3 separate regions of the Homo sapiens genome follow, and regions 2 and 3 are each linked to region 1. The links come from fine-mapping of genetic effects on gene expression. Tissue or cell type: whole blood. Region 1 holds a variant in brackets; each other region holds the start of a gene. All regions are shown on one strand. Distances are between the middles of the regions.

Region 1 (8,107 bases):
CCAGAGCTCACCCCAAAGCTGGAGAGCAAGCCCATATCATGCATGTTTACTGAGCACAGCCTCTAGTCTAGTTCATCCTGAGCAGCATTCTGCCTTGCCTTTGGGTCCATCCTGCAGTCCTGTCCAACTGCAGAACTCAAATAGCAAAACTGCTTGGCCAGGGAATATATGCTGTGACCTGGCCTCATTAGTGGTAACTGCAGTGCCCAGTCAGCAGTTCCACGTGATCGCAGAGCCTAGCCAGTGGTCTCGCTGGACAGTAGAGCCCAGCCAGGAGCCCCACTTGACCTCAGATAAAAGGCATCAGCCCACCCAACTAGAGAACTCAACAGCAAGCTCTACCTGCCTGTGGTCACTACCAGCTGGCCCATCCAGAATCACAGGCTAAACTAAACAGTGAAGGTTAATTCCTGTGAATGAATACCTGTAAAGGCTGGAAGAGGTGGCAGTCTCCTCAAATGTACAGATGCCAACACGGGGACATAAGGATTAGAAAGAGGGAAGCATGAACTATAAAGGAATGTAGATTTATGTAATGACTGGCAAAAAAAATCAGGACAATTCTCTTAAAGAATTTCAATGAACTATAAGAATATACAGATAAAAAATTAAATAAAATTTGGAAAAAATAGATCAATAAACCAAGAAATAGAAACAATTTTTAGAAACCAAATATAAATCCTAGAGATTAAGAATACAATGACTGAACCAAAAAAAGTCAACAGAAAACTTCAACAGCAGACTCAATCAGGGCAAATAAAGAACTGATGAGCTCAAAGACAGAAATTTTAAAAATTATCCAGTCAGAAGAGCAAAAAGAAAAAGAATAAAAATGAAGAAAGACTACATGAGTTATAGAATACCATCAAGAAAACTAATTTTTGCATAATAGGAGTTGCAGAAGAAGAGAAATAAAAAAGATGAGAAAAAATGTTACGAGAAATAATGGCTAAAAACATCCCAAATCTGGGAAGAGATACCAACATTCAGGTACAGGAAGCTCAGGGGTCCCCAATTAAATTTAAACTGAAGAAGAGTTCACCAAGACACATAATAGTCAAACTACCAAAAAGCAAAGGAAAATTCAAAGCAAAGAGATTAGAAACATACCACATACAAGGAAATATCAATACAGCCATCAGCAGATCTCTCAGCAGAAATACTGCTGAGGAGAGAGTGGGATGATACATTCAAAATGAAGAAAAAATAACCAAGAATACTTTACCCAGCAAAGTTGTCCTTTAGAAATGAGGGAGTGGCCTTTCGTTTCAGTGTAAAGCACTCTCTTTCCTGTAAGTCAGGCATAGTAGTGATAAATTCTCTTAGCTTTTGTTTGTCTGGGAAATATTTTATTTCTCCCTCATTTCTAAAGGACAACTTTGCTGGGTAAACTAGTCTTGGTTATTTTTCTTCACTTTGAGTGTATCATCACACTCTCTCCTAAGGCACAGTAGTGATGAATTCTCTTAGCTTTTGTTTGTCTGGGAAAGATTTTATTTCTCTCTCATTTCTAAAGGACAACTTTTCTGGGTAAAGTATTCTTGGTTATTTTTTCTTCACTTTGAATGTATCATCCCACTCTCTCCTCAGTAGTGTTTGTGCTGAGAGATCTTTCCCAGACAAACAAAAGCTAAGAGAATTCATCACTACTATGCCTGACTTACAGGAAAGAGAGTGCTTTACACTGAAATGAAAGGCCACTGATGAATACCATAAAACACATGAAAGCACAAAACAATGGTACTGGTAACCGAGTCATATTCAGAAAACTCTAGGACTAGAAAGGTGGTGTTAAAGCAATTTTATCTCTAGTATGACGGTTAAGAGACAAAACTATTAAAAAATAAATTGTTAAGGAATACAAATTACAAGATTACATAAATTCTGATATCAAAAGATAAAATGTGTGTGTGTAGGGGACAAAAATGTACAACTGTTAGATATTTTAGTTAAACCTCATGATAACCACAAAGCAAAAACACATAGTAGATGCACAAAACAAAACATAAATAGGATTCAGAGTATACCACTACAAAAGAACTATAAAACTACAAAGGGAGACTAAAAAAGAAAGAAAGAAAAAAAGGATCTACAAAACAAAAATTACAAAACGGTAATAGTAAATACTTAACAGTATTTACTTTGAATGAAAATGAATTAAATTCTCCATTCAAAAAAAGTAATGGCTGAATGAATTTTTTTAAAAAGGCCCAACTATATACTGTGCTATAGTTTAAATGTCCCTGCCAAAATTCATGTTGAAACTTAATTGCCATTGTAACAGTGTTAAGTGATGGGACTTTTAAGGGGTGATTAAGTCATAAGGACTCTCTGGTCTCATGAATAGATTAATGCAGCTATTTTTAAAAATTTATAATTGCCTTGTCTTATGGTTCTGAGATTAATGCTATTATCACAGGAGTGGATCAGTAATCACAGCAGTGAGTTCCTGATAAAAAGGATGAGTTCAAAAGATGGTTTGCTAGAGGACCCTAATGCCTGTACTCCCCACACCAAAAAAAAAAAAAAAAAACAGGACCCAAATGATGAATAAATAACTACACTTGCACTGTAGTGTATAAGGGAGAATGCTGGCGTACAGCAGGAAAAGACAGGAAACATGATGTAACTAGACCGTTTGGAAGGGCTGCATAGAAGCAAAATGAGGACACTCAGCCTCTGCTACACTGTCTTCCCAGCCAGGATTAACTCAAAAAAAAAGGCACTTCCCCCAGCAGGAAAAAGGTAACCAGGAGGCCCCCAGGAATCCCCACTGATATCACAGATACCTGCAATCTTTGCTGCTAGAGAATCCTGCAGCGCCCACAGGCCCTGAGCCCCGTTGGGGGAGCTGCCTGGCATCCCTGAACTGCACTACCCCAGAGAAGGAGCCCACATTGTAGCCCACTCCCTAACACATTACCAAAGCTGCAGCTGTATGGCACCATCTTGATACTGGATCCACAGCCACAGTGCATCCTGCTGCAGGAGCCTGTAACCACTGCACCTTTTCATCTCTGAGGGTATGCAGCCATTACATCATGTTTACACATAGTACTGCACCATTCCCCAGCCAAGCTTCTACAGGTTACTACTTCCTGGGAATAAGCTACCAAGGAGGTGCCCCACCTTCTGCATCCTAATGACTGCAGAGCCCCAACTTCAGCTCTTCAGAACCTAGGCCCAGCACCCCAGCACCAGAATCCACATGACACTCTGCCTGTAAAAGTAGAGACAATCCTGCTCAGCAAAGAAGCTGAGTCTTTACCAGCTGTGTACACATTCAGCACACTCAGTAGCCAGGTGAGCTGGTGAATCTGAGCCAGGAGGCCCTCATGTATCCTGGTGCAATCACCAGTCTGGTGCACCACTTCTAGGGGGACCTCATCCCCAAACTGGCAAACTAGCTCCTGCATGCCACCTGCATGTTCACCAACTGTGCACATCACTTCCAGGGGGACCCCACCCCAAGCCAGCAAATGGCATATGGATCCCCATATGCCACCACCATGCTCACCAGCCAAACATGCCACTTCCACGGGAGCCTGGCCCTGAGCCAGTAAATTGGCCCCCATGCACTGCAGGCATACTCATCAGGCCAGTGTGCTGCTCCCAGGGAAGCCCTGCTATGAGCCAGCAGACCTGTCAATGCATGCAGCCAGCATGTTCACCAGCCAGGCACTCCACCCAGGGGAGCCTGGCTATGAGCTGATGGACCTGTCAATGCCTGCAGCCATGTGCTCATCAGTCAAGTGAACCACTCCCAAGAAAGCCCCACCCCAAGCCAGCAGATCAGCCCCTGTGCACCACTAGCACACTCACCAGCCAGGGTGTTGCATCCCTGGTGGTCCCAATCATAGGCAGGTTGGCCCCTGCACTTACTGGTGAGGCACACAACTCCCAGGCAATCCCCATTCAGATCTGGCAGACCAGCTGCGTAAACTTCTGCAGCCTAGACCACTACAGCTGAAAAACTGCACAGAGACTACTGCGCCCATTCAAAACCAAAGCCAATGAACCCTACCCAAATGACACTCTAAGACATATCTGCAGGCAAAACTTTCCCTGCAAAAGCCACTCCATAATATCAGAGAAGGCAACCATTGCACCAGATCCACAGGTGTTAATGCAGGGACACAGGAAACATGAAAAAGGAAACATGAAGTCAATGAAAGAGGACAATAATTCTCTAGTAACTGACCCCGAAGAAATGGAAAGTTATGAATTGCCTGAAAAGGAATTCAAAATAATGATCTTAAGAAATGCAGTGAGAAGCAAGAGAATACAGATAGACAATAAAATGAAAAAATAAGCTATGACCTGAATAGAAAATTCAACAGAGATAGAAATCATAAAGAACCAAATAGAAATCTTGGAACTGAAGAATTCGATGACAAAAAAAAAAAATGTAATTGGGAGCTTCACAACAGGCTATATCAAACAGAAGGAAGAATTTCTAAACTCAAAGACAGGTCTTTTTTTTTTTTTTAATCATACTTTAAGTTTTAGGGTACATGTGCACAACGTGCAGGTTTGTTACATATGTATACATGTGCCATGTTGGTGTGCTGCACCCATTGAAGTAACCTAGTCAGAGGAATGAAAAAGGAAAAAAAATGAAAAAGAACAAAGAAAGCCTACAGGACTTAAATGACTATTAAGCAAAGAAACTTTTGCATTATGAGAGTTCTAGAGGAAGAAGAGATGGTGAAAGGCACAGAAAGCTTATTTAACAAAATAATAGATGAAATCTGCCCAAGCCTTGGAAGAGATATGAACGACCAGACCCATAAATCTTAAAGGACCCTTTATAGATTCAATCCAAATGGATCTTTGAGGTATATTATATTCAAACTGTCAGAAATCAACAACAAAGACAGAGTTGTAAAATCAGCAAGAGAAAAGTAACAAATTACATATAAGGCAA[G/C]CTACAATAGACTGTCAGCGCATTTCTTAGCAGAAATCTTGCAGAATAGGAGGGAAAGGGATGATTTATTCCAAGTGCTAAAAGAAAAATGTTAGCCAAGAATAATAGACCCAGCAGAGATATACCTCAGAAATAAAGTATTTCCCAGACAAGCAAAAGCAGAGAGAATTCATCACCACAAGACTGGCATTACAAGAAACGTTTAAGAAAGTGCTTCATCAGCCGGGCACGGTGGCTCACTCCTGTAATCCCAGCACTTTAGGAGGCCAAGGCGGGAGGATCACGAAGTCAGGAGATCGAGACCATCCTGGCTAATACGGTGAAACCCCATCTCTACTAAAAATACAAAAAATTAGCCGGGAGTGGTGGCGGGTGCCTGTAGTTCCAGCTACTTGGGAGGCTGAGGCAGGAGAAGGGTGTGAACCCGGGAGGCAGAGTTTGCAGTGAGCAGAGATCACGCCACTGCACTCCAGCCTGGGCAACAGAGCAAGACTCCATCTCAAAAAATAAATAAATAAATAAAGTGCTTCATCTGGAAGTGAAAGGACAATAACTACTAACATGAAAACATATGAAGGTATAATCCTCACTGGTAGACATAAATTAATAATCAAATTCAGAATACTATATTACTGAAATGGAGATCTTTCAGATCTCCAGTATAAAACATCAAAACGATCAGTGATAACTATAAATTGTTAAGGAACACACAGTATAGAAAGATCTAAATTGAAGCCACAAGATTATCAATTGTGAGAGAGGAAAAGTCTAGAGTATTTGTGACAAAAGTTAAGTTGGTATCAGTTTAAAAGTCTATTAAAACTGGAAGATTTTTATGTAAGTCCCAGAGTAACCACAAAGAAAAAATTACAGCAGATACACAAATGAAAAGTAAAAGGAATCAAAGCTTATCACTACAGAAAACCAACAAATCGCAAATGGAACTAATAAAAAGAAACAAAGGATCTATAAAACAATCAGAAATTAACAAAATGGCTGGGGCAAGTTCTTACCTATCAATAATAACCTTGAATATAAATGGATTAAATGCTTCAATTAAAAGATATAGAGTGGGCCGGGCGCGGTGGCTCACGCCTATAATCCCAGCACTTTGGGAGGCTGAGGTGGGCGGATCACGAGGTCAGGAGATGGAGACCATCCTGGCTAACACGGTGAAACCCTGACTCTACTAAAAATACCAAAAATTAGCCGGGGTGGCAGGCACCTGTAGTCCCAGCTACTCGGGAGGCTGAGGCAGGAGAATGGCGTGAACCCGGGAGGCGGAGCTTGCAGTGAGCCGAGATCACGCCACTGCACTCCAGCCTGGGCGACAGAGCGAGACTCCGTCTCAAAAAAAAAAAAAAAAAAAAAAAAGATATAGAGTGGCTGAAAGGATTTTTTTTTAAAAAAGATCCAACTATATGCTGCCCACAAAAAACTCACATCACCTGTAAGGACACATATAAATGAAAAATGAAGGAATGGAAAATAATATTCCACATAAGTGGGAAACAAGAATAGGAGTAGCTAAGTTCACGTAAGATAAAAAGAGACAAAGTCATTATATAATAATAGAGGTCAATTCAACAAGTATAACAATAGTAAATACATGTACACCCAACAGTGAAGCAAATAAGCAATCATTATTAAATTTAAAAAGAGATGGCAATAATACAGTACTACGATACAATAATAGTGAAACGGGGAAAACGCCCCTTGTCCCCAAAGCAGGGCTTGTGGCTCACTCCTTCAGTGCCCCGCTGCTCATACCTCTAAGGGAGCATATGAGACGGGCAGGCTGTGGGGCTCCGAACCCAGGCAGTGTCTAGAGGTGAACGCTTACAGCTCCGGAAGCCCCAGTGGACGTGTGTTAGAGGGTGTTCTTTTAGTTTTGCAGTCTATATAGGCGGCTTGTGTTAACCAGCTCAACTTGGAGTGGGAAGGTTTTCCCCTGGAGTCAGGCCACTCAGCGTCCTGGGCTCATTTCCAACTGCCCCAGCAAAACTCTGCATCACTGTGCTTCTGCTGGTCACTGGCCTTCCGCGCCAGTTTCTCCAGACGTCCACCCCACCTGTGTGTCTGCCTGCTGGGGTCTGGGAGGTTTATAGGCACAGGTTGGGGGCGTGGCAGGCCAGGGTGGTCTTGGGAAACGCAACATGTGGGCAGGAAACGCCTGTCCACACCTAGATCCTTAGGGGTGGAGCCCTAGTCACGCCCTCCTCTACCCAGCGCTTCCCTTCCCCCTTCCGTATCATTTAAAGGGACCATGCTCTTCCCTTCCCAGCACTTCCCTTCAGTCTCAATAGCGGGAGACTTCAGCATCACGCTCTTAGCAATGGCCAGATCATCAGACAGGATACAAACAAAGAAACATCAGATTTAAACCACACACTAGACTAAATGAACCTATCAGACATTTACAGAACGTGCCGCTCAAGGCCGGGCGCGGTGGTGCATGCCTATAATCCCAGCACTTTGGGAGGCTGAGGCAGGCGGATCATTAGAGCCCAGGAGTTAGAGACAAACCTGGCCAACATGGCGAAACCCCGTCTCTACTAAAAATACAAAAATCAGTTGGGCATGGTGGCGCACTGCTGTCATCCCAGTTACTTGAGTGGCTGAGGCACGAGAATCGCCTGAACTTGAAAGATGGAGGTTGCAGCGAGCCAAGATCGCACCACTGCACTCCACCATGGACGACAAAGCAAGATTCTGTCTCAAACAAACAGACAAAAAAATGACACTCAAAAGCTGCAGAATACACATCTGTCTCAATAGCACATGGAACATTCTCCTGAACAGATCATATGTTAGGCCACAAAACAAAGCTTTAACAAATTTAAGATCTAAATCATTTCAAGTATATTTTCTAACCACAATGGTATAAAACTAGAAGTCAACATCAGGAGGAAATTTGTAAACTTTGTAAATACATAGAAATTAAATAGCATGCTCCTCAACAACCAATGGATCAATTAAAAAATTAAAAAAAAATTTAAACAGGTAAAATTGAAAACACAACATACGAAAACCTTTGAGATGCAGTTCTAAGCAGTTCTAAGAGGGAAGTTTATAGCAACAAACACGTATATTAGCCATGTGTGGTGGCTCACGCCTATAATTGTAGCAGTTTGGGAGAGAGAGGCAGATGGATCACTTGGGGCCAGGTGTCTGAGACCA
Region 2 (8,107 bases), 35 kb before region 1:
TACCTCTGAATATTTATGGATGCTTTTTACAAAATCAGGCTTGTGTTCTTAATCCGAATTAGTAAAGTTTTATGGAAGCTGAAATGTAATACAGTAGTCTCCCCTTATCTGCAAGAGATACAGTCCGAGACCCCTAGTAGATGCCTGAAACCTCAGATAGTACTAAACCCTGTATAGTCTATGTTTTTTCAATCTGACAACCAAGGCGGCTACTAAGCGACTAAGGGGCAGGTTGTATACAACCTGTGTGGATAAGCAGGACAAAGGGATGATTCACATCCCAGGCAGGACAGAGGAGGAGGATCATGAGATTTCATCACTACATGGCTTGTGATTTATTTTATTATTATTTTTTTTTTTTGAGAGGGAGTCTCGCTCTATCACCCAGCCTGGAGTAGTGGTGCGACCTTGGCTCACTGCAGCCTCTGCCTCCTGGGTTCAAGCAGTTCTTCTGCCTCAGCCTCCCAGGTAGCTGGGAATGCAGGCGCCCGCCAACATGCCCAGCTAATTTTTGTATTTTTAGTAGAGACAGGGTCTCACCATGTTGGCCAGGCTGGTCTCGAGCTCATGACCTTAGGTGATCCGCCCTCCTCGGCCTCCCAAGGTGCTGAGATTACAGGAATGAGCCACAGTGCACAACCAGCTTGTGATTTAAAACATGGTTTATTTCTGGAATTTTCCACATAATATGTTTGGACCAAGGTTGCCTCGGGTAACAAACTATGGAAAGTGAAATTGCAGATAAAGGGAGTTACTGCTGCTGTGCTCTAAAATTGGTGTTTGGGTGATCAGGAGTGGGTAGCCAATGGGAAGAGGTGATCAGGAGCAGGTAGCCAATGGGAAGAGGTGATCAGGAGCGGGTAGCCAATGGGAAGAGGTGATCAGGAGCGGGTAGCCAATGGGAAGAGCACTTCTGAGTGATCACCAAAGCAGTTTCTTTAGTGGTCTTTTCACATTCTCCAATGTTCAAGCATATTTTCCACTTTCCATTTTCTATTTCACCTCATTTTGCCTCATCATCTGCCATCCCTGCTTATTTCTTAAGCCTACTGATGGCACTCACTAAATTGTGTTTAGGGCTAATGAATCATTGTTCCTTAATATCCTTTTCAATATGCCACAATTTAGAATGCATTTAAAATTTTCTAAAACAATATCCTACTCTGAATATTAACTAATTTGAGCCACATTCCCATCTCTAACTCAGCACAAAGTGCCAGTCTTCCCCAATATCTCCTCTCAACTCCCCACCGCACCTTATAAAATTGGAATCAGAAATCTCACTCTGTCATTGCTCATCTTAGAATAAAAACACTGATTTTAATACTGTTTTACTAGTTTCAGCCTTCTAAGTACGTAGGCCTCTAGGTATTCTGCAGATCACTGGTGGTCTTGATAGCCATTCATATATGTTCGTATTATGTTATTTTTCAACTAAATCGCAATTGGAAAAAAACATCTTTAATATTATGCCCTTGGATCTGTTACTTCATTACTAATACTTGTGATGCAATAGGACACTTCACCTGTACTAAAAGGGCCAAGAGTAAATGTCTTGTTTTGTTGTTGTTGTTAAACATGTCTACAGAGTTGGCAGTTAATGCTGAATTTGTCAAATAGCTCTTCCAAAATTATACTTGTATTTAAAAAATAAATGGATCTACCTAATTTCTATTCATCTAATTTGCAGTTTTGTCTTATTAAAGTGGTATGTTTTTCAATGTATTTTTTTCTGAAGTTGATCTCTTTACATTTCAGCTATTACTGTAGGCAGAAAGAAATTGACTTGTAATCTTTGATTTTTTTGCATTTGTAATGGCTTTGTACTTAAGGTAGGATTACATGTTTACAGATTGTGGGGGAAAAAAAAAGAAAAGTGAAGGGAGAGAAAAGACAAGGCGAGTGGCCAGAGACCCTCAGGATCCAAGAGTTAACTCTGATTAACTCAGATGCTTTGTTCAGCCAATTTCAGACTTCTTTTTTCCTAATACAAGCACTTAAGGATAAGCCTTTCTGTAAGAACTGCCTTACATGCATCATAGTATTTTAAATGTAGTGTTTTCATTCTTCTTCTAGTCTAATTACCTTCAACTTCTATTATTAGTTCTCTTAGACCCATTAGTTATTTAAAATTGTGTTATTAACAATTTCTAAGTTCATGGGGTTTCCTCTTTTTAAATTGCTCTTTACCTTCGTTGTCCTTCGTGGTGCTCTCCGTGGAAACCTGCTTTCTGATCTAGTAAGTGCTTATTCTTTGTGCATGTCCCTAGACTTGAAATCACTGCATAATCCCTAACTGTGTGTGTCCTGGCTTAGTGCATCTAATGAATGACTGAATGAATGCATCTTTGCCTTTGCCTTACCCCCGGGCCTGAAACATCGTCTTGGTCCCCTTCTCAATACCTTGGATCCTTGGAGATCAAGGTCCTGGTTGTTCTGGCAAGTTCAACACAATCTGGCCTCATGATCAGAGTCCTGTCCCTGAACTCAAGACAAGGGAGGGATGGGCAGAATTACCTCATGCTGTGCCAGGAAATATGAGTCTCATGGGGCATGGCCTGTGTGCCTGGGCAAATTCACTGCCTCACTACCCTGTGCTGAGATGATCTCTTTTTTTTTTTTTTTTTTTTTTTTTTTCTGAGATAGAGCCTCACTCTGTCACCAGACTGGAGTGTAGTAGTGCAATCTGGGCTCACTGCAACCTCCCTCTTCCCGGTTCAAGCAATTCTCCTGCCTCAGCCGCCCAAGTAGGTGGGACTACAGGTGCGCACCACCATGCCTGGCTGATTTTTGTATTTTCAGTAGAGACGGGGTTTCATCATGTTGGCCAGGATGATCTCGATCTCTTGACCTCGTGATTCACCTGCCTTGGCTTCCCAAAGTGCTGGGATTACAGGCATGAGCCACTGCGCCCGTCCAATCTCTCTTTCAGGGACAGATGTTCACTCTCTCTTGCAGCTCTGCCTGCCAGACTAAGCCTGAAAATATCTCTGCATCTGGCATTCCTTTACCACCTATGTGGGGCACAACCCAGAACAAAGTCCCTCCAAGTGTACCCTACTCTCTTTCCATTATCATTTCTCTGGTCTGAGATAGATGTTTATGACCTGCCAATAAATGCAGTGACTCAAACTCCAGTGCCCATACTCCTCATTCATACAGCCATGTTTAGGGAGGCTCTAGGGAGAAATGCACAGTTTGACATCGTTCATGAAGAGCCTCTCCACGGCTCCTGCGCCTGAGACAGCTGGCCTGACCTCCAAATCATCCATCCACCCCTGCTGTCATCTGTTTTCATAGTGTGAGATCAACCCACAGGAATATCCATGGCTTTTGTGCTCATTTTGGTTCTCAGTTTCTACGAGCTGGTGTCAGGTAAGCCTTTCAGTTTGGACTGTTGTTTTTCTCCTTGTTGAATAATATTTTGAGTTCATTCATGACAATGATCTCAGCACAGTGAGATGCAGGAATCTTTGGTGCTTGCATTCTCCAGCTTCTCCTGGCCTCAGGCTGGAAACTACCAATGCCAGGAGCTGTGGGAAGCACAGGGCAGCAGGAATTGAGGAAGACTCCTTGGGCTGTTTCTCAAGGACTTGGGCACTATCACAGTAGCTCAGAATAATGGGAGCAGGCCCTGGGAGCAGGGAGGGAACACATTGAGAACGCCAAGGTAAACACATTGTTCTCCCCAGGTGGGCTGTGGGGCTTAGGCAGGGGAAGTCTCTAATAAAATCCCCAGGTTTTTGACTTGGGTGCCTGGGTGGAAGGTGGCACTGTTTAGGATGTTTGGAGAAAAAGACAATGTGTCCAGTTATGCACATGCTGAGTTAGAAACACCTGTAGTTATGGGGTAGAGCACCAGACCTTTAAGTGAGGAGTAAGTTGGAACCTGGCATAGTCTAGGCAGAAACCCACTCTTCTTTCTCCTTCTAGTAACCATCAAGACAAAGCCTGGTGTATAGGATATTCAGTAATCAAATAAATTTTGCAGGGAGAGATAGGGGCTGGAGTAGAACACTGGATTCTGGGTGGTCAGTGTTAAGCCACAAAAAGTTCATTTGACTGTGTTCACTTTCTGTCTGGAACAGTTCCATCCTGCTATTTGTCTACCTATGACTGTTTTGCTAAACAAAGCCAACAAAACAGAAATAAGGGGATCAAAATCCATGTGTGCTCAGAGGGCGTGGTGGCTCACACCTGTAATCCCAGCACTTTGGGAGGCTGAGGTGGGTGGATCACCTGAGGTCAGGAGTTTGAGACTAGCCTGGCCAACATGGTGAAACCCCATCTCTACTAAAAACACAAAAATTAGCCGGGCATGGTGGTGAGCGCCTGTAGTCCCAGCTACTCGGGAGGCTGAGGCACGAGAATCACTTAAACCCAGGAGGCGGAGGTTGCAGTGTGCCAAGATCGTGCCACTGCACTCCAACCTGGGTGACAGAGTGAGACTTTGTCTCAAAAAAACAAAAACAAAAAATCACAATCCACGTATGTTACTCACAAGACAGCCTCCGTTTAAGTACATTCTCACCCATTTTCTGACAAGCCTTTCTGTCTGCTTTCTGTTTCTGCATGAGGCAGCAGGGCATGCTGGAAATGACCTTAGAGGAAGTAACACTATTTTTAAAACTTTCCTTTTCTCTATGAGCTTGTGGCTAATAACTTCTATTAGCATCAATTTTTGCTTATGATGACATAGAGATAATAAGATCACATCTGTGACATTCCTGTGGCTGAAGGGCTGCTGTGTGGATTGCGTGAACTCGTGCATGTAGAGCGTCCAGCACGGAGCTCCGCTGGGGCACAGTATGTTGCGACAACAGACAGTGTCATTCCTTGCTTCTCCCCAGGGGAAGGAGTAAAGGGAGACGCTGTCGGCAAGACAAATGACAGCAGCAAGGCTGGCCGGAGAAACAGACATATACTAAAAACTGTTTGCCTGGCTTGAGAGTCTCACACAGCCTTGAAGGCAGCACTCACAGCAGCCCAGCTGACAGGCTGGGTCCCAAAAGCTGATCTAGAGCAAGGGCCTTTCTGCAGGTGGTTTGTTTAGCAGACTGTTCTCAGAAACAAAAGTGACAGGGTGCAGAGAGTGAAGCCAGCGGGAGGTAAGCCATAGAGGGTGCGCTAATGAGCAGGTTGCTGCGGTGGCAACTGGGACCCAGTCCCACTGGGTCCTTTGGAGGAACTGTATAGACGATGGCTCAGGATCTTCCCAACATCCACTGCTTCCTGTTCCCCACTGGGTGAGATGTGCCCCTCCGGGACTATTAAAATCGCAAACCTTCTTGGCCACCCTGTGCCTGGGCTGAGGAGGTTCCAAAGGTTGCAAGAAGCCATCAGCAGAGAGGCAGAGGCCAGGCTCCAGGGGCGGAGCTGTCAGCAGGCAGGCAAGTGCCCATCCCATTCCAGGGGGACTCAGGGTTGGGTGGTGAGGAGCAGGGCCTCAACATCTGCTACACCAGGTCAGCAGCTGGTCTGACACCAGGCTGCAAAGTCACGCCTCACTTAATAATGCTCTTAAAGATGCATGAGTGAAATACATTTCAGCAAGATTTATAAAATGTACTTAAACTTAGAAATAATTAGTGCTAAAATTAAAAATATCCACTTATCTGGAAATTCACACATGGGATCCACTTTGCCTCTGATGCACATGCAGATACCACACACAGATATATCCATATACCATAAATGGATACATGTGAATGAATCAAGAGACACTGCCAATCAAAGGGGGTGGGTACTTAGAAGGTGAAGGGAGTGGGCCTCCATCGTTTGTGGTCTCTCTAAGAAGAACTCTAATCATACAGAGTTGTAAGTGTGATTTGCACCAGAAAAATTACTTAGTTGACCACAAAACCAAGAAGCAAATGCAAAAAGAAAGTAGCGCTCACCATTCCTAGGCATAATCCCTGTCTGTGGAGCCCATTCTCCATGCTGGGCATGGGGAATCCTGTGCTGAGGGAAACACACACACTCTGTCCTCATGAAGCTAAAAGTCGTGCAGGGAAGGCTCGCAGAAAACAAACAGTTATGTCACTTGCAGCAAGATGAAGACAGTTTCAAGTGAAGATCAAGACAAAGCTGTACCAAGAAAATACAAACAAAACAAAACAGGTAAGCCATGTTGATAAAGCACTAGAGTGGGGGTGTCCAATCTTTTGCCTTCCCTGGGCCATATTGAAAGAAGAACTAACACTAACGATAACTAATGAATGAAAAAAAATCACAAAAAATCTTATAATGTTTTAAGAAAGTTTAAGAATTTGTGTTGGACCGTATTCAAAGCCGTCCTGAGTCTCATGCAGCCCACAGGCTGTGGCTTGGACAAACTTTTGCTAGACGAAGTACTATTCAAGCACGAAATAATAAAGTGGAAAAACATAAAATTATTACCTGGAGTAAAATGTAGGTGTCATGGAAAAGATATGTCACAACATCAGTGCACTAAAGGGCAAATCTCTGAAATAAAAACTACAAAATCTCCTCACTGTGTCACACCATGTCCTTCAGAATATGGCAGAAGTCTACTTAAAAAAAAGAAGCACAAATAAATGTGCTTCAGCGGAGAATATATATTCCTTTCTTGTATCCATAAAACATTTACAAGATGTAATCATCTATTTGAAGGAAATAAATTTTCCCAAATTCGATATTTTATGGCCACTTACTCCCCTCCTGGGTCATTAAAAAAGGTTTTTAGCATAGAAGATGCAAAGGGGGTGGTGTGAGTGTTCATTAAGCAGATGGGCAGAGAGGAGAGCACGTGGAGATAGATTCTCCTCCAGTCAGGGAGTCTGCATTTGGAAGGTGCCTCTCAGGCCCCTGAATAACTCATCCCCAGAGACAGGGTTTCCTCATGTTGAATGTGGGAATATTGATAGCACATACCTCACCTCATCTCACATGAGATGTGTGTGAGAACCGAGTGAAGTAACTGACATGGAAGCATTCTCGCAAGTGTAAGATGTGCAAATGCAAGTCATCAGGTTTAGAAAGAAGACTGATGGATCCCCCACCCCATACCCCACACTTCTCCACCCACCAGAGCCCTGAGAAGGACTCAAGTGGATTTTGCTCAGTTGTCTGTTATGTTTCCTCCTATAGGACAGTGGCAAGTCACTGGACCGGGCAAGTTTGTCCAGGCCTTGGTGGGGGAGGACGCCGTGTTCTCCTGCTCCCTCTTTCCTGAGACCAGTGCAGAGGCTATGGAAGTGCGGTTCTTCAGGAATCAGTTCCATGCTGTGGTCCACCTCTACAGAGATGGGGAAGACTGGGAATCTAAGCAGATGCCACAGTATCGAGGGAGAACTGAGTTTGTGAAGGACTCCATTGCAGGGGGGCGTGTCTCTCTAAGGCTAAAAAACATCACTCCCTCGGACATCGGCCTGTATGGGTGCTGGTTCAGTTCCCAGATTTACGATGAGGAGGCCACCTGGGAGCTGCGGGTGGCAGGTCAGTTGTTTATTTATGACTGAGTTGTCTTGTAAAGTCATGCTACCATTATCAGCTCTTAAAAGTATTTCAGATAATGAAATAAAACAGACTTTCCAGATTCTGACATGATGTAAAAAGGCTTCGGTGGGGATCACTGACCTGAGGTTTCTGGAGATGAGCCTGGCCCTGCCATCACACAGGTGGGATCATGATGCAGAAGACAGCCACCTGCACCTGCCACCACCTGACAGGATACAGAGGAAAGCCACTCCCAATGTTGGTGAAATGAGAGTGATAATGCCTGTCATATTTCAATTTCTTTTATTTTCTTCTTTTTTCTTGACTTCTTGTGTGTTACTAAACTTTTTTTAGGATTCCATCACAACTTATTGTTAGTCTTTTTTTAGTATAACATTTTGTAGTGTTTTCTTAGGTGCTGCTTTAGGTGTTATGATATTCATATATAATTTATCACAATCTACTATATCAACATTTTACCACTTTGAAGTGTGGAAACTTCATTTTCATTCAGAGCCCTTCAAACTCCACAATTTAAAAATAACATTGCCTTGAGTATTTCTTCTATATACATAAGCACTATATCAGATAGTGACTTAATTTCTGTTTAAACCATCATATATAATTTTCATTTTTATTTTTTATTTTT
Region 3 (8,107 bases), 130 kb before region 1:
TAGGTAATACTATTCAGGACATAGGCATGGGCAAAGACTTCATGACTAAAACACCAAAAGCAATGGCAACAAAAGCCAAAATAGACAAATGGGATCTAGTTAAACTAAAGAGCTTCTGCACAGCAAAAGAAATGATCATCAGAGTGCACAGGTAACCTACAGAATGCGAGAACATTTTTGCAATCTATCCATCTGACAAAGGGCTAATATCCAGAATCTACAAAGAAGTTAAACAAATCTACAAGAAAAAAAAATCTGATCAAAAAGTGGGTGAAGGATATGAACAGACACCTCTCAAAAGAACACATTTATATGGCCAACAAACATGAAAAAAAGCTCATTATCACTGGTCATTAGAGAAATGTAAATCAAAACCACAATGAGATACCATCTTGTGCCAGTGAGAATGGTGATCATTAAAAAGTCAGGAAATGACAGATGCTGGAGAGGATGTGAAGAAATAGGAATGCTTTTAGCCTGTTGGTAGGAGTGTAAATTAGTTCAACCATTGTGGAAGACAGTGTGGCGATTCCTCAAGGATCTAGAACAAGAAACACCATTTGACTCAGCAATCCCATTACTGTATATACCCAAAGGATTACAAATCATTCTACTATAAAGACACATGTACACATATGTTTATTGTGACACTGTTCACAATAGCAAAGACTTGGAACCAACCCAAATGCCCATCAATGATAGGCTGGATAAAGAAAATGTGGCACATATATACTATGGAATACTATGCAGCCATAAAAAAGGATGAGTTCATGTCCTTTGCAGAGACATGGGTGAAGCTGGACACCATCATTCTCAGCAAACTAACACAAGAACAGAAAACCAAACAGTGCATGTTCTCACTCATAAGTGGGAGTTGAACAATGAGAACACATGGACACAGGGAGGGGAACATCACACACCAGGGCCTGTCGGAGGGTAGGGAGCTAGGGGAGGGAGGGGTAGCATTAGGAGAATTACATAATGTTGATGATAGTTTGATGGGTGCAGCAAACCACCATGGCACATATATACCTAAACCTGCACTTCCTGCACATGTATCCCAGAACTTAAAATATAATAATAATAATAATAAAGGGGTATTGAAATTCCCCAGTATTTTTGTTTTGCTATGTTTTCCTCATGTCCACTAATATTTGCTTTATATGTTTACACACCTTGATGTTGGTTGCATATTTATAATTGTTACAGTCTGATTAACTTATTTGCTTATTATTACTTAAAGACAATCTTAGTCTCTTGTAACAGTTTTTGACTTCTGGCCTACTTTATCTGACATAAATATAGTCACCCCTGCTTTCTTTTTTTACCGTTTGCATGAAAAAATTCTTTCTTTTCACTTTATTTTTGTCCTTAAGCTTGATCTAGTCTGCCATTGAAGCTCTCTATTGTATTTTTTCATTTCCTTCATTGAATAATCTAATGGCAAGACATCTGTTTAATTTTTCTTGATGTCTATTTCTTTGCTGAATTTCTAATTTATACCATGATTTTTTTTTCCTGATTTCTTTCAATAGTCTATCTATATTATCTTGAATCTTGCTGACTTTTTATTTTTTATTTATTTTTTATTTTTTTAATTATACTTTAAGTTTTATGGTACATGTGCACAACGTGCAGGTTTGTTACATATGTATACATGTGCCATGTTGGTGTGCTGCACCCAGTAACTCGTCATTTAACATTAGGTATATCTCCTAATGCTATCCCTCCCCCCTCCCCCCACCCCACAACAGGCCCCGGTGTGTGATGTTCCCCTTCCTGTGTCCACATGTTCTCATTGTTTGATTCCCACCTATGAGTGAGAACATGCAGTGTTTGGTTTTTTGTCCTTGCGATAGTTTACTGAGAATGATGATTTCTAATTTCATCCATGTCCCTACAAAGGACATGAACTCATCATTTTTTATGGCTTCATAGTATTCCATGGTGTATATGTGCCACATTTTCTTAATCCAGTCTATCATTGTTGGACATTTGGGTTGGTTCCAAGTCTTTGCTATTGTGAATAGTGTCGCAATAAACATACGTGTGCATGTGTCTTTATAGCAGCATGTTTTATAATCCTTTGGGTATGTGCCCAGGAATGGGATGGCTGGGTCAAATGGTATTTCTAGTTCAAATCTTGCTGACTTTTAAAAATGTTATATTATTATTATTATTATTATTATTATTATTATTATTTTGAGATGGAGTCTCACTCTGTCAACCAGGCTGGAGTGCAGTGGCACGATCTCGGCTCACTGCAACCTCCACCTCTCAGATTCAAGTGATTTTCCTGCCTCAGCCTTTTTGGGGAGAGTCATGTTTCTTTGCTTTTTCATGTTTCTTGTGTCCCTGTGTTGATATATGTGCATCTGGTAGAACATTTGCCTCTCCTAACTTATAAAGTAGCTTTTCTAAGAAAAAACTTTCACTTGTTGATAGGTCCTCGGGTGCTGAGTAGGGTGTATCGGCTCTGCTTCTGGCTGGCACAGTAGCGTAGTCTCTGTGAAGCTTCTCAGCTATAATCAATGTCAGTGACAAGTGGATGCCTCAGTGGCCCGTACTGCAGTAATTTGTGGGAGTGGTGGTAGCAAAGTAGATTACACTGAGCTCAGGCACCAAGAGAGCACAACTACTCCACCAGCTCAGGTACAGCTTCCCTCGGGTGGGATGCAGGGCTGGTTTGTGTGCTGAGGGAATAAGACCAGTGTTCTGGCTTGGGCATAGCTTTTCTGGAGGTGGGGCACCAGGCCGCTTTATGTGCCAAGGGAGCACAGCTGCTCCACCATCTCAGACATTGCTTTCCTGGGGCTGAGTCTGGGGCCCCCAGTTAGTGTGCACACAAGGGGGTATTGTTGCCATTCTATTGCGCATGCTTCTCTGGGGTCAAGGTGCTTGGCTCATGCTTGAGAGGGTACAACTGCTTCACCAGGCCAGGCTTGGCTTCCTTGCTGGGTTGGACTGTTTGGTCCTTGGGGGCCAGAGCAGCCTGTAGGTTCAGAAGCCTGGGTCATGACCGTTCCACTGGGCCTAGGCCTAGGCTTCGAATGGCCATGGGTGGGGCATAGCTGCCACTGGAATGGAGAGGATACTGTGCCTTCTCAGCAGCTTCATAAAAAGGTATTTTGGTCTATATATCCTTGGTAAATCTGTATTTCTGAGACAGCATGAGATCAATAATTTTCTATTCTACTCTCTTGCTTACAACATTCAACAACTCATTTCCTTTTTTTTTTTATCACAGAGTAATATTCCATTGTATAGATGTACCATAGTTTGTGTATACATTCTATGTATCATTATTGAATGATATCTGGTTGCAAACATTTTTGGCAATTATGAATAAAGCTGCTATAAACATTCATGTGCAATTTTTCATGTGGACATATGTTTTCAAGTCATTTAGGTGAATAAAAAGCAGTGCAGTTGCTGGATTAGGTGATAAAAGTATGTTTAATTTTGCAGGAAATTGCTGAACTGTCTTCTAGAACAACCGTACCGTCTTGCATTCCTGTCAGCAATCAGTGAGAATTCCTGTTGCTCCGCATCCTCACCAGCATTTGGTGTTGTCAGTGTTCTAGATTTTAGACTAAATGCAGTGTTTTCATTTTGTCCTATTCTAGATGCTAACTTTTATTGTGATTTAGTCTCGTGAGTTGTTTTAAATTGTTACATAAGAATTTCTTAGTGTATAGAGTTTCCTATGTTTTTGAATTACTTTTTAATTTTAATTGCATTATGATTAGAGTATGTTTATTTTGATGGTTATCTGTGGAAATTTTCATTCTGATCTAGTTAAGTGGTGACTTTGTGAGTTTCCGTGTGCTTAAAAAGACTGCAAATCTCTCATTGTGGCTGCCCTGGAACTTAGTTTATATAATAAATAAGTTTCCTCATGTCTGAACCTGCCCAGGCACCTTTCCCAATGTATCAGATGTTTAACACTAAGGATCTGTTTTGTTCTGGAAAGTTATTTTTATCTGGCCTCATGATTACAGTCCTGGCCCTGAACTTCAGAGAATGGAGGGGTAAGCAAAAGGACCTCAGACTGTGCCAGGAAATGTCAAGTCACCTGCTGTAGGCTACTACTAATGGAGCATGGCCTATTTACTTGGACACCAAACTATCCAGTGCTAACATGAGGTTTTTCAGGACTAGATCCCATGGCCATACAGCCCTGCCTGCCAGATTGGACGTGAAAAGTATTTCCGCATCTGACATTCCTGTTTCACCCACACAGGGCATCGTTTTGCCCAGGACAAAGTTCACCTCCAATCTTATCCACACTATTTCTATCTTTGCTTCCTTGATAAGATATAGACATTTATGCAGTGGTTCAAAGTCTAGAGTCCCTACACTTCTGGTACATGACAGCTGTGTCTCGATGGAGTAGACTCTCAGAACAGCGCAGTTTGCCCTCCGCTCACGCAGAGCCTCTCCGTGGCTTCCGCACCTTGAGCATTAGGCCAGTTCTCCTCTTCTCTCTAATCCATCCGTCACCTCTCCTGTCATCCGTTTCCATGCCGTGAGGTCCATTCACAGAACACATCCATGGCTCTCATGCTCAGTTTGGTTCTGAGTCTCCTCAAGCTGGGATCAGGTAAGACTCATCTTTGTTTCCTCCTTACTAACTAACAGTTTGAGTTCTTTAGCTACAATGGTTGCAGCATAATGGAATGAAGGCATCTTTGTCGTTTCCATTCCTTTGGCTTCTCCTAGCCTCAGCCTGGGGAAGGATCAGGCGCTGTGGAAACAATTATAGTAGCCCCCAAATAATGGAAACACGGGTGTTGAAGACGCACCGTGATCGTTGACGGGGACACACCTAACGTGTTAAGGTGAATAAATTCAGTGTTTCTCCCAGATGGGCTGAGTGGTGTAGGCAGGGTTATTGGAGCACCAAGGTTGCTGACATGGATGTCCATCTGGGAAGAGACACAGTTAGGATTTTTGGGGAAAAGACAATGTATCCAGCTAAAGACATGCTGAGTTAGAAATGTCTGTGGTATGAGACACGAGGGTGGAGGAAGGTGTACAGGTCTTGAGGTGAGAAATTAGCTGAAACCTGGCATATTCTGGGAAGAAATCCACTCTTCTTTCTCCTTCCAGTTACTGTTAACACAGAACCTAGTATATAGGATGTTGAGTGACTGAATACAATTCACAGAGGAAGCTTGAGGTTGGGGTAGAATGCTGGTGGCTAGATGGTCAGTACCCAGCCACAGAAGATTCGATTGACTGTGTTCACTTTCTGTCTGTGAAGGTTCATCCTGCCACCTGTCCACCTATATCTTTTTTGCTAAATGAAGCTAAGAAAACAGAAATAAGGGCAATCAAAACATAGAGCATGTTTCCTTAAAACAAAAACCCATATGTGTTACTAACAGGAGACGCTCTCGTTTCAGTTTGTTTTCATTTATTTTCTGACGAGCTTCTTTGTTTCCCTTCTGTTTCCGGGTGAGGCAGCAGGACATCCTGGAAATGATCTTGGAGACAGAAACATTTTATTTTTAAAAACTCTTATTTCATTTTCTTGTGAGCTTTATTGTTCACAGCTTCCTTAGGTGTTGGTTTGCTTATGATGACATGGAGATACGATCACATTCCTGCTGGGGCTGTGGTGAGGACTGCATGAGCTTGTGCATGTAGAGTGCACACAGCTGCACGGGTGCATGGCATGTTGCAGCAACAGTCTTGTTCCTTTCTTATTTTCAAGGGAAGGAAGTGGAAGGAGTGAAAGGAGATGTTATAGGCAAGAGAGGTGACAGCAGCAAGGGCTGGCCGGAGAAATGGAGGTACCCTGAAAAATGTTTCCTTGCCTCAAGAGCCCCACACAGCCCTGAAGGCAGCATCCATAGCAGCCCAGCTGGCATACGCTGGGTCCCCAAACCTGACCTAAGACAAGGGCCTTCCTGCCAGTGATTCGTTGAGCAGGTGATTCTGGGAAACAAAGTGAGGGAGTGGAGAGAGTGAAGCCAGTAGGGGGAAAGCCATAGAGGGTGCGCTAATGAGCGTTGCTGCGGTGGCAACTGGGACCCAGTCCCACTGGGACCTTTGGAGGAACTTTATAGATGGTGGCTCAGAGTCATTCCAACATCTACTGTCTCCTTTCCCCACTGGGTGAGATGTGCCGCCCAGGACTGCTAAAATCGCAAACCTTCTGAGCTGCCTTGTGCCAGGGCTAAGTAGGTTCCAAGGGTGGCAGGAAGCCCTCAGCAGAGAGGCAGAGGCCAGGCTCCAGGGACGGAGCTGTCAGCAGGCAGGGAAATGCCCATCCCACTGCAGGGGGACTCAGGGTTGGGTGGTGAGGAGCAGGGCCTCAACATCTGCTACACCAGGTCAGAAGCTGGTCAGACACCAGGCTGCAAAGTCATGCCTCATTTAATAATACTCTTAAAGATGCATGAGTGAAATACATTTCAGCAAGATTTATAAAATGTAATTAAACTAAAAAATTAGTGCTAAAATGAAAAAGTATCCACTGATCTAGAAATTCACACATGTAATTCACCTTCCCTCTGATGCACATGCAGACAGCACACACAGGTATATCCATATACCATAAATGGATACATGTGAATGAATCAAGAGACACTGCCAGTCAAAGGGGGTGGGTACTTAGAAGGTGAAGGGAGTGGGCCTCCATAGTCTGTGGTCTCTAAGAAGCAGTGTAATCCTTACAGGGTAGTAAGAGTGATTTACACCAGGAAAATTACTCAAATGATTGTTAAACAGATGAGCAAGTAAGAAAGGAAATGGGGCTCACCGTTCACATGCATAACTGTGGAGCCTGTTCTGTGTGACTGGCTCTGTGCTGATCAAGTGGGTACTATGCTGAGCAAGAAAATCAGGCCCTGTCCCCAGAGAGCCAAGAGCTGTGCAGGGGAGGCTCACAGAAAACATGTAATTGTCACACTTGAAGCAAGACAATGAAGAAAGTTTCAAAAGCGAGGTGAGGACATACATGTACCAAGAATTTTTTTTAAAAAAAATGAAGGCAAGACATGTTGACAAAGCACTAGGCGAACCACCTTTCAGTGCTAAAATAAAGTGGAAAAAATTACTACACAAGCGTAAAAGGCACATGCTATGGAAAATATAAGTCACACGTGAACGTGCTAAAGAACAAATTTACAGAAAACAGACTGCAAAATCTTGTTTCAGTGTCACAGCATGTCTTTCAGAACTTGGCAGAACAAGCAGATTTTCAAAAAAAACTAAGGAAGTACAAATAATTGTGTGCGCCATGGGCAGAAATGTAACATTCCTCTATAGTAGCCATAAAATATTGATATAATATTGTGCTTGAAGGAAACCTTAACGAATTGCCGCAAACTGGAGACTTTATGGCCCATACTCTTCTCTGGGCCATTAGAAAGACGTCAACTTTGGTTTTCAGCAAGGACGATGGAAATGGGGATGTTTGGGTTTTTTTTTTAATTGAAGCAAATGGGCAGATGGGAGAGAATGTGGCAATAGAACCTCCTGGAATCAAAGGGTCTACATTCAGAAAGAGACTTTTTCCTCTGGATAACATGGTTTTCTCATCTTAAAAATAAAAACATTAATAATACACATTTCTGCAGGTGCTCCTCAAGATCGAATGAAGTAACTGATGTGGACATGGTTTGTCAAATGTAAGGAGATACACAAATGCAAGTCACTGGCTTTAGAAATAGGATTGTGATGAATGTTTCCCCCTGATGCACATCTCCAGCCCAGCCCAATGGAGCCCTGAGTAGGTCACACTATAAAGGGTTTTTTTTTTTGTTTTTGCTTTTATACTTTAAGTTTTAGGGTACATGTGCACATTGTGCAGGTTAGTTACATATGTATACATGTGCCATGCTGGTGCGCTGCACCCACTAACTCGTCATCTAGCATTAGGTATATCTCCCGATGCTATCCCTCCCCCCTCCCCCTACCCCACAACGTCCCCAGAGTGTGATATTCCCCTTCCTGTGTCCATGTGATCTCATTGTTCAATTCCCACCTATGAGTGAGAATATGCGGTGTTTGGTTTTTTGTTCTTGCGATAGTTTACTGAGAATGATGATTTCTAATTTCATCCATGTCCCTACAAAGGACATGAACTCATCATTTT

What was found. PIP is the estimated chance that this variant, and not a neighbour inherited with it, causes the effect.
Region 2: it holds the start of BTNL3, and the variant in region 1 is fine-mapped to the expression of BTNL3 in whole blood (TOPMed, PIP above 0.99).
Region 3: it holds the start of BTNL8, and the variant in region 1 is fine-mapped to the expression of BTNL8 in whole blood (TOPMed, PIP above 0.99).

The regions. Positions count from the first base shown.
Region 1 is chr5:181,021,151-181,029,257 of GRCh38, forward strand. No RefSeq gene overlaps it. Among named protein-coding and RNA genes, the nearest start is that of BTNL9, 15 kb to the right of the region's middle. The variant G/C (reference allele first, on the strand shown) is at 4,928.
Region 2 is chr5:180,985,703-180,993,809 of GRCh38, forward strand. It overlaps BTNL3 (butyrophilin like 3), which reads left to right and starts at 3,144. Exons shown (of 8, transcript NM_197975.3): 1 at 3,144-3,375; 2 at 7,111-7,458. The coding sequence starts at 3,327. It also overlaps the pseudogene ARPP19P1.
Region 3 is chr5:180,894,757-180,902,863 of GRCh38, forward strand. BTNL8 (butyrophilin like 8) reads left to right here and starts at 4,403. Exons shown (of 8, transcript NM_001040462.3): 1 at 4,403-4,603. The coding sequence starts at 4,555.